Homo sapiens: one gene and its partners. The protein of the gene in region 4 purifies or fractionates together with the protein of the main gene of each other region. This does not show direct contact. Each region holds a gene or a part of one and is shown on either strand. Other genes may lie near its edges.

What was found. The genes of interacting proteins can lie anywhere in the genome.
Region 1: the proteins of CDK11B (region 4) and JADE3 purify together in Homo sapiens (affinity purification with mass spectrometry, with the first as the bait; one large-scale study listed by BioGRID). This does not show direct contact.
Region 2: the proteins of CDK11B (region 4) and SYT1 purify together in Homo sapiens (co-immunoprecipitation; one large-scale study listed by IntAct). This does not show direct contact.
Region 3: the proteins of CDK11B (region 4) and RTF1 fractionate together in Homo sapiens (co-fractionation; one large-scale study listed by BioGRID). This does not show direct contact.

Annotation. Positions count from the first base shown.
Region 1 is NC_000023.11:46,918,856-46,922,679, reverse strand, and holds part of JADE3 (protein Jade-3), read right to left. Parts: intron 1-3,824. UniProt on the Homo sapiens protein: Scaffold subunit of some HBO1 complexes, which have a histone H4 acetyltransferase activity.
Region 2 is NC_000012.12:79,294,709-79,298,532, reverse strand, and holds part of SYT1 (synaptotagmin-1), read right to left. Parts: intron 2,465-3,824; coding exon 2,297-2,464; intron 1-2,296. UniProt on the Homo sapiens protein: Calcium sensor that participates in triggering neurotransmitter release at the synapse. May have a regulatory role in the membrane interactions during trafficking of synaptic vesicles at the active zone of the synapse.
Region 3 is NC_000015.10:41,462,030-41,465,853, forward strand, and holds part of RTF1 (RNA polymerase-associated protein RTF1 homolog), read left to right. Parts: intron 1-2,741; coding exon 2,742-2,856; intron 2,857-3,824. UniProt on the Homo sapiens protein: Component of the PAF1 complex (PAF1C) which has multiple functions during transcription by RNA polymerase II and is implicated in regulation of development and maintenance of embryonic stem cell pluripotency.
Region 4 is NC_000001.11:1,642,005-1,645,907, reverse strand, and holds part of CDK11B (cyclin-dependent kinase 11B), read left to right. Parts: intron 1-618; coding exon of another isoform or gene 619-645; coding exon 646-782; intron 783-3,399; coding exon 3,400-3,522; coding exon of another isoform or gene 3,523-3,561; intron 3,562-3,903. UniProt on the Homo sapiens protein: Plays multiple roles in cell cycle progression, cytokinesis and apoptosis. Involved in pre-mRNA splicing in a kinase activity-dependent manner. Isoform 7 may act as a negative regulator of normal cell cycle progression.

The sequences.
Region 1 (3,824 bases), on a different chromosome or scaffold from region 4:
GAAATGCTAGAAATTAAAAAAAAAACAGTAAGAAAAACAATGGGCTGAACAGTAGACTTGACATAGCCAAGGAAAGACTCAGTGAGCTTGAAGATCAAGGTTATTGATCAGTCAATAAAAATTAAAAAGAGACGAATGAAAATACTGAAGAGCACTCAAGAACTGTGGGGCAATAACAAACAGTATAACACACTTGTAATTAGAATCCCAGAAAGAGAAAAAAAAAAGAACAAGATAGAATTATTTGAAGAAATAATGGCTGAGAAACTTTCCAAAATTAGTGACAGGCAACAAACCACAGATATAATAAAGTTTAGAGAACACAAAGCAGGACAAAAATGAAAAAATTTTAAAAGCCACAATTAGGCATATCATATTCAAGCTGCTGAAAACCAAAGACAAAAAGAAAATCTTCAAAGTAGTCAGAGGAAAAAAGACACATTAACTATGGAGGAACAAGGATAAGAATTAAAGCAGCCTCAAACTAACGCGGGAACAGACAGCCAAACACCACATGTTCTCATTCATGGGTGGGAGAGTCGAACAATGGGAACATATCGACGCAGGGAGGGGAGCATCACACACTGGAGTCTGTTGGGGGATGGGGGACTGGGGGAGGGATAGCATTGGGAGAGGTGCCTGAAGTGGGTGACGGGTTGATGGGTGCAGCGGGCCACCATGACACATATATACCTATGTGGCAGACCTGCACATTCTGTACATGTATCCCAGAACTTAAGGTATTAAAAAAAAAAAAAAGGATTACAGCAGCCTTCTCATCAGAAATCACGTAAGCCAGGCAATGGTGGAGTACTATGTTGAAAGAGGAAAAACAACTGTCAACCCACAAAAGTGTCCTTTCAAAAGTGAAGGAAAATGAAAACTTTCTCAGACAACCAAAAACAGAGAATTTACTGCCAGCAGATCTGCCCTCAAAAGATAGGTTAAAGGGGATTCTTTAAGCAGAAAGACTGTGATCAAGGTAGGAAACCTGGATTACCATAAAGAAATGAAAAGCATTGGAAAAGGAATAAATGAAGGTAGAATATAATCTTTTCTTTTTAAACATTTGAAAAGCCAATTTCCCAAACACCAGCTAAGGGCCAATCGTGCACGTTGGCCTTCTAAAGACAGCAGCCTCAGGTCTGCTATGTTAACTCTTTTCTGCACAACACAGTATATTAAAAAAAAATCCTACAACATCATACTTGATGGTGAGAGATGGAATGCTTTCCAAGATTGGAACAAGTTAAGGATGTCCTCTCTCACCACTACAACTCTGAAAAAGAAGAAAAAAGCCAGGCCAGGTGCAGTGGCTGACGCCTGTAATTCCAACACTTTGGGAAGCCAAAGCAGGAGGATCACTTGAGGCAGGAGTTCAAGACCAGCCCGGGGAACATAGCAAGACCTTATCTCTGCACAAAAAATATTTAAAAATAGGTGGGCATAGTGGCATGTGCCCATAGCCCCATCTACTCAAGACGCTGAGGCAGGAGGATCACTTGAGCCCAGGAGTTCAAGGCTGCAGTGAGCTATGATGGGGCCACTGCACTCTAGCCTAGGTGACAGAGCAAGACCCTGTCTCTTAAAAAGCAAAAAAAGCCAGACGTGGTGGCTCATGCCTGTAATCTCAGCACTTTGGGAAGCCAAAGTGGGAAGACTGCTTAAGACCAAGAGTTTGAGACTAGCCTGGCCAATACAGTGAGACCCTGTTTCTATAAAAAAATTTTTTTAAAAAGTAACTTAAGCATACCCTGAGAGAAAGATTTTAAAAAGCCAGAGTACTCTATTACCTGATTTCTAGGCTTATTATAAAGCTATAATAATCAAGACTGTGTGTTAATGGAGAAATGATAGATATATAGATCAATGCAACAGAGAGCCCAGAAATAGATCCACAGAAGGATAGTCAACTGATTTTTGACACATATGCAAAGGCAATTCAATGGAGAAAGGGTAGTCTTTTCAACAAGTGGTGCTGGGACAACTAGACATCCATACGTGGAATCACATTCATGGCAGGAGAATATAAAATGGTAGAACCACTTTGGAACATAGTTTGGTAATTTCTGTCAAAGAAAAATCCACTAATCCCATTCCTACGTATTTACCCCAATAAACTGCAAACTTATGTCCACACAGAGATCTGTACACTAATGTTTACCACAGCTCTATTGAAAACCACCAAAAAACTGGTAACAACTAAGTCGTCCTTCGACAGGTGAATGAACAAACTGTGGTACATCCATACAATGGAATAGTATTCAGTAATGAAAAGGAACAGGCTATTCATTCACATAATATGGATGAATCCACTAAAAGCAAGACCAAAAAAAGGCTACATATTGCATGATTCCACTCATGTGATATTCTGGAAAAGGCAGAATTATAGTTAAAAATTCAGAAGTACACTATCGTGAGGCATTTCTAGGGGGAAAAACTGGCTAGATTTTTTTTGAACAGGAATAGCTCTGATCAGGTCAACTCGGATAGGAGTCTATGGAATTTTGCATCACTATATATCATCTCTTTAAAAAATGTATTTAACTTTTAAAATAAGAAAATATATTCACATTGCTTAAAATTCAAAACACATACGTAAAAGTTTATGTAGTGAAAAGTCTCCCTCTCACCCTCTACCTGCTTGGTCATGCGTGTTCCAAAACTATCAGTGTCTTCAATATTCTTGATTGACCCTTAGGATATTACCAATCTTTTGCTACTACAAGCAATACTCCAATTAATATGCAAATATTTGTTGAATAAATTCCTGGAAGTGTTTGTGGGGTCTAATGATGTGTGTGTTTATAAATTTTGATTGCTCTTTCAAGTCACTGACTTTTAAAATGTCAGAGATTTTTAATTTTTATCCTAGGAGGAAAGAAGAAAAGCTAACATTCTACCACCAGGCAATTTTCTGGGGGAATGTACATCTCTAAGACATACAAAATGAGCCTTGTATAGTTTCCCACACATACTTCCTGGGGTCCAGTTGCATTTTCATGTAATATATTTCAGGCCACAAGCTGTTGTGAAGCCTATTTCAGTTATGTGGAAAGTGTTACTTCTGAGATCTTCACAAGCAAAGGTCAAAGGCTGATGCCCCAAATTGGTAATTCCTGGCCACTCACTTCACAGTACAATGCTGGATTTTTCACTGCAACCACAGGAAGATTTTTAAATCTTAACCAATTAAAACACATTTACAGAGAATCCCTTGTCCTTATTACCAATGCTCAAATACGGATTTCCTCTCTTAGGTACAAATTATAAATCATATAAAGGTTCCAAGGAAAGACTGCAAATGTTTCTTTCATCTCTTAAGTGGTGGTGGTTCCCAAATAACGGTCTTTTGGCTTGACCACAAAATCTAGTAGAGTCTAATACACTAGGGTTTTCGTGATAATGCTTGAATGGAAGGTTGAGGAAATCTAGAGACTCCTTTGATAATAGCCACACAAGATCAGAAAGCAGTTAAGCCACTCACAAGAATATCTATGTCCAAAACCACACTGTCTGCCTTTGGCTTCTTCCCAGAAAAACCATCACTCCATTCCACACTTGGTGGAAGAGGTGTTACCAATGGCACAATCACATTATTTAGTCTCTAGAATACACTACATTCAGAAATGGGTGTTTAACAAGATTTATCAAAGCTTAACAGCTTACATTCATTGCTAATTATTATGAATTATTGCAGTAATGGCCCCCAATTTTTTCACATCTCCCTGTATCCACACCTTTGAATGGTCACCACCCACAATGACTCTGGGCTTGGCCACAGAAGCACTTCCATGCTTTAGCTTATGGGACAATAGCAAATG
Region 2 (3,824 bases), on a different chromosome or scaffold from region 4:
TTGATCAATTTTCATACACTTCCTATTATTTTATCAGTGTAAATGGTTGTCTTATGCTTCAGCAAACATTTCTCAATTAACTCTGTATATTAAGGAGGGAAGAAAAGGAAGAATATTGGGCCATCTACATACAAGAAATTTTAGTTTTCCAAAGAGTTTTTCTTTTCTGTCATTTATTTACCATCTGTTTGGAACCTGATTATTTTATTAAAATGATATGATTAAAAAGTAAGCATCATCCTTTTTCCATTTTAGAAGGAATGGAAAATAAACCCTTCCAAAGAGCTGACTCTCAAAGAAAGAAACAAAATTTTTTAGAGTAAGGATAAACCCTTGAAAATGTTATTGTATATCTAAAATCTCTCTAGACTTTCTAGTGATTGTACTCAAAGAGCAACAGTCAAAAACCTGGACTTGGGGTCAGACAGACCTTGTACCAGATTTGGACTTTCCAACTAAAGGGCCTGGGGCACGTGATTAAACATAAGTTTATTCATCTATTAAATTGTGATAATACTGTAATAATGGCTGCTTCATGGGGCTATTTTAGGGATGAATGAATATATGTAAAACACCTAGCACAGAAGAAGCACTTAAAAATATTTATTGTTTGAATGATTAGTAGCTCCTTCAGATAACTGTTTTGGGGGAAAAGAAGATGAATTAATTTGGGGCATGTTGAGTTCCTGTTAAGTGATTTAAATCCATTGTAAAGCCAGGCTTCTTTAAAGTCTTTTATACTTCCATTCCTGTATCATATTGCCTCTTGGCATTTCAAGATGAGTAATCTACAATGTCTAACCAGTTCTCTAGAAAAATTGAAGTATTTTTTAATATAGCAGAATATATTATACTTTGGATTTATGTATAGTTTGATCAACCTTTCTGAAATAAAATGAAACTTGATAAAAATGTATAGAGAATTCAAAAATTTCAATAATTATACTTGGTTTTATAGAAATTACTAATAAAATTATTAGCATTTTTTAAAGAAATAATAATGTAGGTAATGCAATACAAAACAAAGCCCCAATACATTAGCTCATATAATTTAAGAATTTCCTTACTAAGTTTTGGTCAGAAACTGCTGACCTAAGTTAAGGTTAATAAATAGATGAATAAAACAACTGTGATTACTATTACAATATTTTTAAAATTTTATTTCCATTTTACGTTTCGTAGTATGTTGACTATAGTGATTAAGCTTCATGAGCAGATACTCTTCATGAACTGAGTATTTCCAGAATGTCTTTACTGCTACTTTAAATTCACTGCTTAGGTACAGAAAAACCAGATTTTAAATAAGATTACTGACAATACATGAGGGACCTTTGTCTTGAAAACTCAGAAATTTTAGAGTGAATAGAAAGACACTTCCCCTTTACATAATTGAAAACAAGGTTTGAGAAAATGACTCATGCCCTCATTTTCAATTTATTTCATCCCAGAATGTTTGCCAACACAAGGCATATGCTAAGCCTGGCTGATGGACGTGGTGATTTTGAATTAGCCTGCTGGCATATTCACAGATATTTCATTTTTCAGAAACATATTGTTCTAAGTAATGCATTAAAAAGTTTTTTTCGCACGTTAAAGATATCCACCAAAAGAATTGTTTTTAATGAATGATTTCAAGCCAAGATCCACGAAGATCCTGGAGACCTGCAGGACATGTTTTCCTGATGAGATATTATATGGCTGGAATCTCTCTGTTGTTTGTCAACTGAGGTGCCTCAACAAGATGAAGAACATCAGGGCAGAACCTAGAGTAAAGGAAGAAGGCTAGAAATGCAATAAAAAATATGTTCATATTCCTTTTATTGATTAGTTAAGAAGAATGACTTTGAAGTGCTCAAATTGCCCTCTACACACACAATTTTGTTACAAGAGTCATGTCTATTTGTACCATTTAAGCATTGGGACACAGCTTACTTAATCCTGGGATTGTAACAGATGTACTTATTTTCACAAACTTTGAAATTCAGAAAAATAATGATTTCATTCCTTTGGCTTTATTTCAGGGAGGGATCTCACTTTTTAGATGTGACTATGACATCCTAGTCATGTTCTAGTCCATTCCATTCTGAAATGACTGAACCGAATCCTACTCTGAACACGCTGAAAGGCAATATCGAATGTTGACTGTAGTGAAGATAAGAATTTTGCATATTCTGACTGGAATTATTGTGAGTGCCTGAACAAGCATTCATGTGCATGTCTATGTATGTGTCAGGATGAGATCAGTCTTTTAAGTAAAACAACAAAGGAAAGGTTATAAATAAATGTTAACAAATACCTTGAAAGTAAATTGCTCATTGAAGACAGGATTAAGGGTTTTTCGGTGGACTTTTGTCTCAAATTTCTTCTTCTTATCAGGTAGCAGAAACACTTTCACGTAAGGATCAGATGTGCCCCCCATGTCCAAGGCGGGCAGTTCGGCAGCCTGAATGATCCCTACCAGCAGCTGAAATAAATGACAGAATACAGCATACATAAATATCAGTGGACATTTTGGAAAAGATCGATTTGTTCACAATGCTGCATATTGGGATTTCTCCCTCTTCCTATTTATTTTTAATAAAACTCTGATTCTCTTATGAATCTGAACACAGAAGGCAAATGAACTGAGCTATGTAGACTTCAGAAACCCAATTATGACTGATGCAGGCTCTGGGAAGCCTGGTTTTAAGCACAAAAGAGGCTTTTAAAAGGTTGCTGATTGCAGTTAAATATGGAGTTCATTTTTGCAAAAGAGTTGTAATCAAATAACTTTCCAGTTGCTAAAAGCTCTTGTGCATTGTTTTTCTTTCCAGAGCATGATTTGTAAGTGAAAATGCATTGTTAAGCAATCACAAGTTTGTAATTACAAAGTGGGAAACTTTTATTCTTTATCAAAGCCTCAGGCTAGCTGAGTAGAAATTTCTTAGAAATTGGGTAGCATTTTGAGATAAAAAATAAGATCTTCTAGTTTCTATTATATTTGACCTTCACTGGTGTGCAGACTACATTTATTTTAACTTACAGTAGAATGATTATTATCTATGAGATTCTGTGTTTAAATATAGGACACGGAGTAAAAGAAATGTAATTTCAGCTTCATAGAAAGCAAGGGAGATTAGAGGTGAGGTTTTTTAATGGTGAGTAACTGTGTTTTTTATTTTTTCCAAACACCACAGAACTATTACATTTCTTTAAGTCTGTTTTCTTACTGATGCATTCTTAAGCCTCATTATGAATATTAAGGTATTATGGTATGGTTAATATTTTTGCGAAGAAAAAAAGAGGTGTGAGTAGACTATCATAGATACTCTGCCATTAGAGATTTTGTGTCAACAGACTGATTTAGATCCATATAGGTAACAAAGCAGACTCTTACTGTTATTCAAGGTATATGCTATTTTGTAAATGCAGTAACACCATAGGTTTTTACATCTCAGCCTGAAAAATCTGAGTTCATGCCTTTTTAGCTAGTAGAGTAAAAAAGCAATTCCCCCTCTTAAAAAAAATGCATAACCATTTTAATTGTGACCCACCGTGTACTTAAGTGCATTTTGGCTAGGTGGCTCAACTTTTAACATGGCCCAATAACCTGAATGATTATGTTGTTTCTATTTTAATGCTTCAATATCTTTTTTTTTTTTTGTGGAATCATGATACAACAGTGGCAATAAGAGTGCTAGATTGTAGGTAAACAAAACACAGACAGATGGTCAAAAAACAGCTAAAATAGGCATCGGATTATAAAGACATGATTAGTAAAGGAAACAGTCTGTCTCTTTGTTTGCTAAGTAGGTATTTGGTATTTACCTTTATGTAGTAATGCG
Region 3 (3,824 bases), on a different chromosome or scaffold from region 4:
CAGGTGTGAACCACCACCCCCAGCTTCAGTGACTTTTTTTAGTGACTATAAGAATGGTTTAGTGTGCTGATTATTAAGACAGAGGTTCAGAGCCATCATAGAAAATTGATATTTTAGTAGTTCGTTTGTTTAGCTTCAGGGCAGTGCAATATGGAAACTCTGGAATTTCCTGAATCTTTTTTACTTTAAAAGCTCTTTATATGGATTGCATTTAATCTTTGTAGTCTTTTTTATGTAAGCACCATTAGCATCCTGTTCTCTAGCCAGCAGCACCAGTAGTGAGATGTCATTTTCAGTTGTTAGATTATTCATGGGGGCAGGAAGCATAAAAGGTAGCCTGGTTGTAGAAAGGGCACTGACATTGCAGTTAGAAGGTCTAGGGGTCAAGTCAGACTCGCTGGAGGGGTGATCGGAGTTAAATCACTTTCTCTTCCTGCCTCAGCTTCCTCCTGGGGGTTGTTGTAAACCTCAAGAGAGATTATATACATAAGAACATTATGTAAATGTAAACTATCACTAACTCTAAAAAATAACTTTGTTTAAAATAACCCACTTAAAGTGTATAATTCATTGGTTTTTATATGTCCACAGAGTTGTGCAATCATCACCACAATTAATTCTAGAGCATTTTGTCACTCCTGTATTTCCCCATAAGCCTCCCAGCCCTAGGCAACCACTAATCTCCTTTCTGTCTCTCTAGATTTGCCTATTCTGGATATGTTTATTATTATTGTTGTTGTTATCAAGACAGGGTCTCGTTCTGTCACCCAGGCTGGAGTGCTGTGGCATGATTATAGCTCATTGAAGCCTCGACCTCCTGTGTTCAAGCAATCCTCCCACCTCAGCCTCCCAAGTAGCTGGGACTATAGGCGTGTGCCACCACCTGGCCAATTTTTTAAACTTTTATTAAAGAAGAGGTCTCGCTATGTTGTCCAGGCTATTCTTGAACTCCTAGCCTCAAGCAGTCCTCCTGCCTTGGCCTCCCAAAGTGTTTAGATTACAGGCATTAGCCACCATGGCCGACCTGGATATTTTATATAAATGAAATCATAATATGTAGTCTTTTGTGACTGACTTCTTTCACTTAGTATGTTTTTGAGGTTTATCCATTTAGCATGTATTAGTACTTCACTCCTTTTTATGTCTGAGTAATATTCCATTTTATGTATATACCACATTTTGTTTATCTGTCCATCTGTTGATTTATATTTGTGGTGTTTCCTCCTTTTTGCTATTGTGACTGGTGCTGCTGTGAACGTTTATATACAACAATTTGAGTACCTATTTTCAGTTCTTTTGAGTGTATACTGGAAAGTAGAATTGCTGGCTGGTACGGTAACTCTTTCTAACTTTTTGAGAAACTGCAGCTGCATCATTTTAGATTTCCCATCGGCAATAAGTGTACTAGTTTCTCCACCTCTTCACTAACACTTTAACACTTGTCTTTTCCTTTTTTTGTTGTTGTTGAGACAGGGTCTCACTCTGTCGCCCAGGCTAGCTAGAGTTCAGTGGTATGATCATGGCTGGCTGCAGCCTCAATCTCCTGGGCTCAAGCAGTTCTCCCACCTCAGCCTGCCAAGTAGCTGGGACTACAAGCATGTACCACCATGTCCAGCCAATTTTTAAAATTTTTGTAGAGACAGGGTCTCACCATGTTGTCCAGGCTAGTCTCCAACTCCTGGACTCAAGTGATCCTCCTGCCTTGGCCTCCCAAAGTACTGGAATTACAGGTGTGAGCCACCGTGCCTGGCCTCCCTTTTTGTGATAATAGCTATCCTGGTGGGTGTGAAATGGTCTTTCATTGTGTGTTTTTTGTTGTTGTTTGTTTGTTGTTTGTTTTCAAGACGGAGTCTCACTCTGTCGCCAGGCTGGAGTGCAGTGGCGTGATCTTGGCTCACTGCAACCTCCGACTCCTGGGTTCAAGCAATTCTTCTGCCTCAGCCTCCCGAGTAGCTGGGATTACAGGCACATGCCACCATGCCCAGCTAATTTTTGTATTTTTAGTGGAGATGGGGTTTCACCATTTTGGCCAGGATGGTCTCAATCTCCTGACCTCGTGATCCGTCCACCTTGGTTTCCCAAAGTGCTGGGATTACAGGTGTGAGCCACTGCACCGGGCCTGTTTGTTTGTTTGTTTATTTTTTGAGATGGAATCTCACTCTGTCGCCCAGGCTAGAGTGGCGCAGATGAGTACAGCAATACCCTATATATGTTCTCTTTCTCTCTCTTTTTTTTTTTTTGAAACGGATTCTTGCTCTGTCGCTAGGCTGGAGTGCAGTGGCGCGATCTTGGCTCATTGCAACCTCCCTCCCGGATTAAAGCGATTCTCCTGCCTCAGCCTCCCAAGTAGCTGGGACTACAAGTGTGCGCCACCATGCCCAGCTAATTTTTGTATTTTTAGTAGAGACGGGGTTTCACCATGTTGGCCAGGATGGTCTCGATCTCTTGATCCCCCCGCCTCGGCCTCCCAAAATGCTGGGATTACAGGTGTGAGCCCCTGTGCCTGGCCCGTAGTCTCTCATTTTAAACATATTCCAACTTAATGCTATCAAATATTTTATATTTTGTTGTAATTAACATATTAAATATTTTTAATGTACTTAAAAGGTACACCAGAGTTTCTTGCAGGAAAGCCAAAATATCTATTAGCTCCTTTCCCTTAGTTCCTTTCTCCTATCTAATAGAAATCAGTTTTTATATACATTTCATTGCTACTTAAAAACCAAATATCTTTTAACCAGATTTGAAATCAAGAAAAAACTAAAAACAGCCAAAAAGAAAGAAAAGAAAGAAAAGAAGAAAAAGCAAGAAGAGGAGCAAGAAAAGAAAAAACTGACACAGATTCAAGAATCTCAGGTAGGAGATTCAGTGTTCCTCATTGTCCAAAGAATAAACCTGTTTTGAGTGTGTGTGTGTGTGTGTGTGTGTGTGTGTGTGTAAAAGGTGGATTTATATTAATCAGCCTAAGTTTATAAGACTTGTGACATGGTTTCATTAATCTCTGGACATATCACCATTAGCTGTGCTGTTAAATCCTTAGCACTTTTTCCTTTGCTTTCCTTTTTCCTTTTCTTTTTTCTTTCTTCTTTCTTTTTCCCTTTTCTTCCCCTCCCTTCCTCCTTCCCCCTTCCCTTCCTCCTTCCCTTCCTCTTCCCTTTCCCTGGTCTCATTATGTTGCCCGGGCTAGAATACAGTGGCTATTCACTGGCACAGTCATAACACACTGAAGCCTCAAACTCCTAGTCTCAAGCAGTCCTCCTGAGTTGCTGAGACTACAGGCATATGCTACCGTGCCCGGCTTTCACTGAAGTCTGCATTTAAAAAGCAGCCCTCAACTGCAGTGACTCACATGTGTAATCCCAGCACTTTGAGAGGCCGAGGCAGACAGATCACTCAAGGCCAGGAGTTTGAGACCAGCCTGGCCAACGTGGCGAAATCCTGTCTCTACTAAAAATACAAAAATTAGCCTGGCGTGGTGGCTTATGCCTTTAATCCCAGCTACTCGGGGGGCTGAGGCACAAGAATTGCTTGAACCTCAGAAGCGGAGGTTGCAGTGAGCTGAGATCATGCCATGGCCCTCCAGCCTGGGCAGAAGAGCGAGGCTCTGTTTTAAAAAAAAAAAGCAGCCCACTAGTGAGTGACCATCCCTTAAGGAAAAGTTGGTAAACAACCTGTCCTAGGTAGCCAGATGCTTATGATGTTTACTTAGATGTATATCATCCTTTACTTGGTATAAATATAGCTGGGAAAATAATCTCTGTATTTATCATAAATGAGACTCCATCTCAGAAAAACAACAAAAAAAGATAATGTGGGGCTGAGTG
Region 4 (3,903 bases):
GAGATTGCGCCACTGCACTCCAGCCTGGGTGACAAACCAAGACCCTGTCTCAAAAAAAAGCTAGAAACAAGAAGGAGCAAGGACTTCACAGCCAGAAACAGGCCAATACAGCAGGAAGATACAGCAATGATACGTGTGAATGCATCTAACCACAGAGCCCAAAATCCATGAAGCAAACACCGATCGAATGGAAAGAAATGGATCATTTATTAATTAGAATTGGAAATGGCAGCTGGGCACGGTGGCTCGGGCCTGTAAACCCAGCACTTTGAAAAGCGGAGGCAGGCGGATCACGAGGTCAGGAGATTGAGACCATCCTGGCTAACATGGTGAAACCCTCGTCTCTACTAAAAATACAAAAATTAGCTGGGAGTACAGGGCGCACGCCTGTAATCCCAGCTACTCGGGAGGCTGAGGCAGGAGAATCGCTCGAACCCGGGAGGCGGAGGTTGCAGTGAGCCGAGATCGCGCCACCGCACTCCAGCCTGGGGGACAGATGAAGACTCCGTCTCAAAGAAAATAAAATAAAAAAATGAAAAAAAAACTTCACGGATTGAATTACGTAGAAAGCCAGTTTACAAATGTGGACAAAAACGCGATAAGCAAGCTTCTGTTTAGGGGGAATGATGGCGTGTGCCTCTTCAGGGACCGCTTGGAGCAGTTAGAAAGGAAGCGGGAGCGGGAGCGCAAGATGCGGGAGCAGCAGAAGGAGCAGCGGGAGCAGAAGGAGCGCGAGCGGCGGGCAGAGGAGCGGCGCAAGGAGCGGGAGGCCCGCAGGGAAGGTAGGCGGCGCGGTGGGCAGCTGTGCTCGGCGGGACGCGTGTCTGCTGCCCCCTGGTGCTGGGCACTTGCTGTCACAGGCGGGCGCTTGGTTCCGGTGCTTGCTTTTCGCCCCTGCCTTTTTTTTTTTTTTGGAGGCAGAGTTTTGCTCTTGTCCCCCAGGCTGGAGTGCGGTGGCGCGATCTCGGCTCACTGCACCCTCTGCCTCCCGGGTTCAAGTGATCCTCCTGCCTCAGCCTCCGGAGTAGCAGGGATTACAGGCACCCGCCACCATGTTCAGCTATTTTTTTATATTTTTAGTAGAGACAGGGTTTCACCGTGTTAGCCAGAATAGTCTCTTGATCTCTTGGCCTCGTGATCCACCCACCTCGGCCTCCCAAAGTGCTGCGATTACAGGCGTGAGCCACCGCGGCCGGCCAGTACGAGCTTTTATAGTCACCCACGTCCTCACCTTAATGGAGATCTTTATTTCTTCACCCAGCTTCCGGTTTCTGTCTCGCGTCCTTTCCTTACACCCCACACAACTCCCTGGAGCTTATTCTTCAAGGCAGGTCTAGGTCTAGTAGTAATGAACTCCCTCTGCTTTTGTTTATCTGAGAATATCCTCATTTCTCCCTCATCTTTGAAGGAAAGTTTGCTGGATACGTGGTTCTTGGTTGACAATTTTGTTGTTGTTGTTTTGAGACAGAGTCTTCTTCTGTTGCCCAGGCTGGAGTGCAGTGGAGCGATCATAGCTCACTGCAACCTCGAACTCCTGGGCACAAGTGATCTTCCCACCTCAGCCTCCCGCGTAGCTGGGACCTACAGGCGTAGCGTGTGCCACCACACCTGGCTCATTTTTCAGTAGAAACAAGGTGTCCCTGTATTGCCCAGGCTGGTCTTGAATTCCTGGGCTCAAGGAACCCTCATGCCTAGCTGACAGTTTTTCCTTTTCACTTGGACTATTTCAGCCCATTGTCTTCTGGCCTCCAAAGTTTCTGATGAGAAATCTGATGATCTTATAGAGGATCCCTTGGATGCTTTAATCTGATGACCTGATTGAGGATCCCTTGGATGCTTTGAAGATTCTCTTTGCCTTAGGCTTTCAACTGTTTAATAATGGGTTTTCCTGTGGGCCTCTTGACTTCATTCTACCTGGAGTTCACTGAGCCTCTCTAATGTTTATATTTACGGTTTTCATCCAATGTGGGGGTTTTGAGGAATTCTTCAGATACCCTCTCTGCTCCTCTCCTCCCTCCTGGGCTCCCACAGATCTGTTGGGGTCCCCGAGGCCGCTCAGCACTGCTCCCTTTTCTTCAGTCTCTTCTGCTTTCTTTTCCTCAGACGATGTGATTTTATTGTCTTCAGGCTCACCGATTATTTCTTCTGCCTGCTCACATCTGCCTGTGAGTTTCTGTTGTGAATATTTACTTTTTAGTGTCTATTGTGAGCATGTACTTATTAGCTCTGGAATTTCTCTCTGGTTTCTTGTTGGATCTTCTGTCTCTGTTGATATTTCCGTCGTGTTCACGCGTCATTTTCTTGACTTTCTCCACATCTTCCTTTCGTTCTCTGAGGAACTGAAGGTTAAGACAGTTCCCTAAAGTCTTTGGGACATCTACCGTCAGGTGATTTTCAGGAACCGTGTCTGTTGGCTTCTTTTTTTCCCCTCTGAATGGGACATACTGTCCTATTTCTTTGTTTCTCTTGTGTTTTTCTTAGTCAAAAAAATGGACATTTGATTCTCATGATGTGATTCTTCCTGGTCCCCACTCAAGGGTGTGCACTTGTTGTTTTGGTTGTGCTGGGCTGTGTCTGTGGGGTCGGCCTGTTGTGGAAACTCAGGGTCTTCACGGGTCTTTTCTGAGCCTGAGCCTTTTCCTGGTCACGTGCAGCCACTTTTTAACGTTCCCGTCAATACAGATGTTTTTAATGTTCTTGTCCTGAAGTGTCTGCCTCCTAAAGGGGGAATAGAGAGAAATGAAGGGGGCAACGGGGGACGTGGTGCTCATGCCCTGGAAGTACCTTCAGCTTGGGGGTGGCCGTGGCTGCTGCCTCTTCATGCCTCTGGGGTGGGACACGCAGTCATCACACTGACCTCGGGTGTGTGTGTCCGTCTGCCCACCTGGGTCCGGCGAGCTGCATGCAGGCTGCTGCCTGCCAGCGGGGAGTGAGGTGGGAGCCACTAATGTGCGAAGCGGTGACGTTGATTAATGAATCACAGTTTACTCTCCAAGATTCCCCCTGAAGTTGCAAACCTTCAGTAGACTCCAGAGCACCTCAGTAGTTGCACAGGCCTGATCCTGTGATGCAAGTGTTGTCTCGGTGGGGAGACTGATTCCCAGTGCTTCCTACTCCATCTTTCCAGAATCTTCTCCCGCCCCTTCCTTTTTGACCAGTGAAGATCAGTCTAGAAGGTCCACCTGGGTCCTCGGGCTCACGGCCTCCAGGTTGGAGCTTTTTCTCCCTGGGCTTCCTGGGAGACCTCTGGCCTCTGACCCCGATGCTGTCAGCACCCTGTGCACGCTGTGGGTGTGTCTGCCAGGTGCGGGTGTGGGAGACGAGGCAGCTGTGCCGGGTGGGGCCTTTTGAGGAAGGCAGTGCTGCTAGTGCCATCTCCCTCTCTGCCCTGCGCGCCAGTGTCTGCACATCACCGAACGATGAGAGAGGACTACAGCGACAAAGTGAAAGCCAGCCACTGGAGTCGCAGCCCGCCTCGGCCGCCGCGGGAGCGGTTCGAGTTGGGAGACGGCCGGAAGCCAGGTGAGGCCAGGCCGGCGCCTGCGCAGAAGCCAGCACAGTGTGAGTCTTTTCTGGGGGATGTTTGGCATAAGTGTGTAGGATTCATTTAAAGCCCAGCTAAGTAACCGCTTCAGAAGAAAGTGAGAGATGTGCTGGCTGAAGTCCTCTCGTGTCGTGAGAGGGACCGTGAGTGTCTGTGTGCGGCCAGGACACAGGACGTGTGTTTATCCGCTGGGACATTCGCCACTGGCCCCGTTAGAGAAGTGGCTTCCAGCGTCTCTGGATGAGCTGGTTTCCGACCAAGCAAAGTTAATCGTTACGTGAAAGGCACTAGTTTTGGGGTGGTGGTAGCTTGTTTGTTTAAAAACATTTCCCCAAATTCACCTTTATGGTTTATCTCAT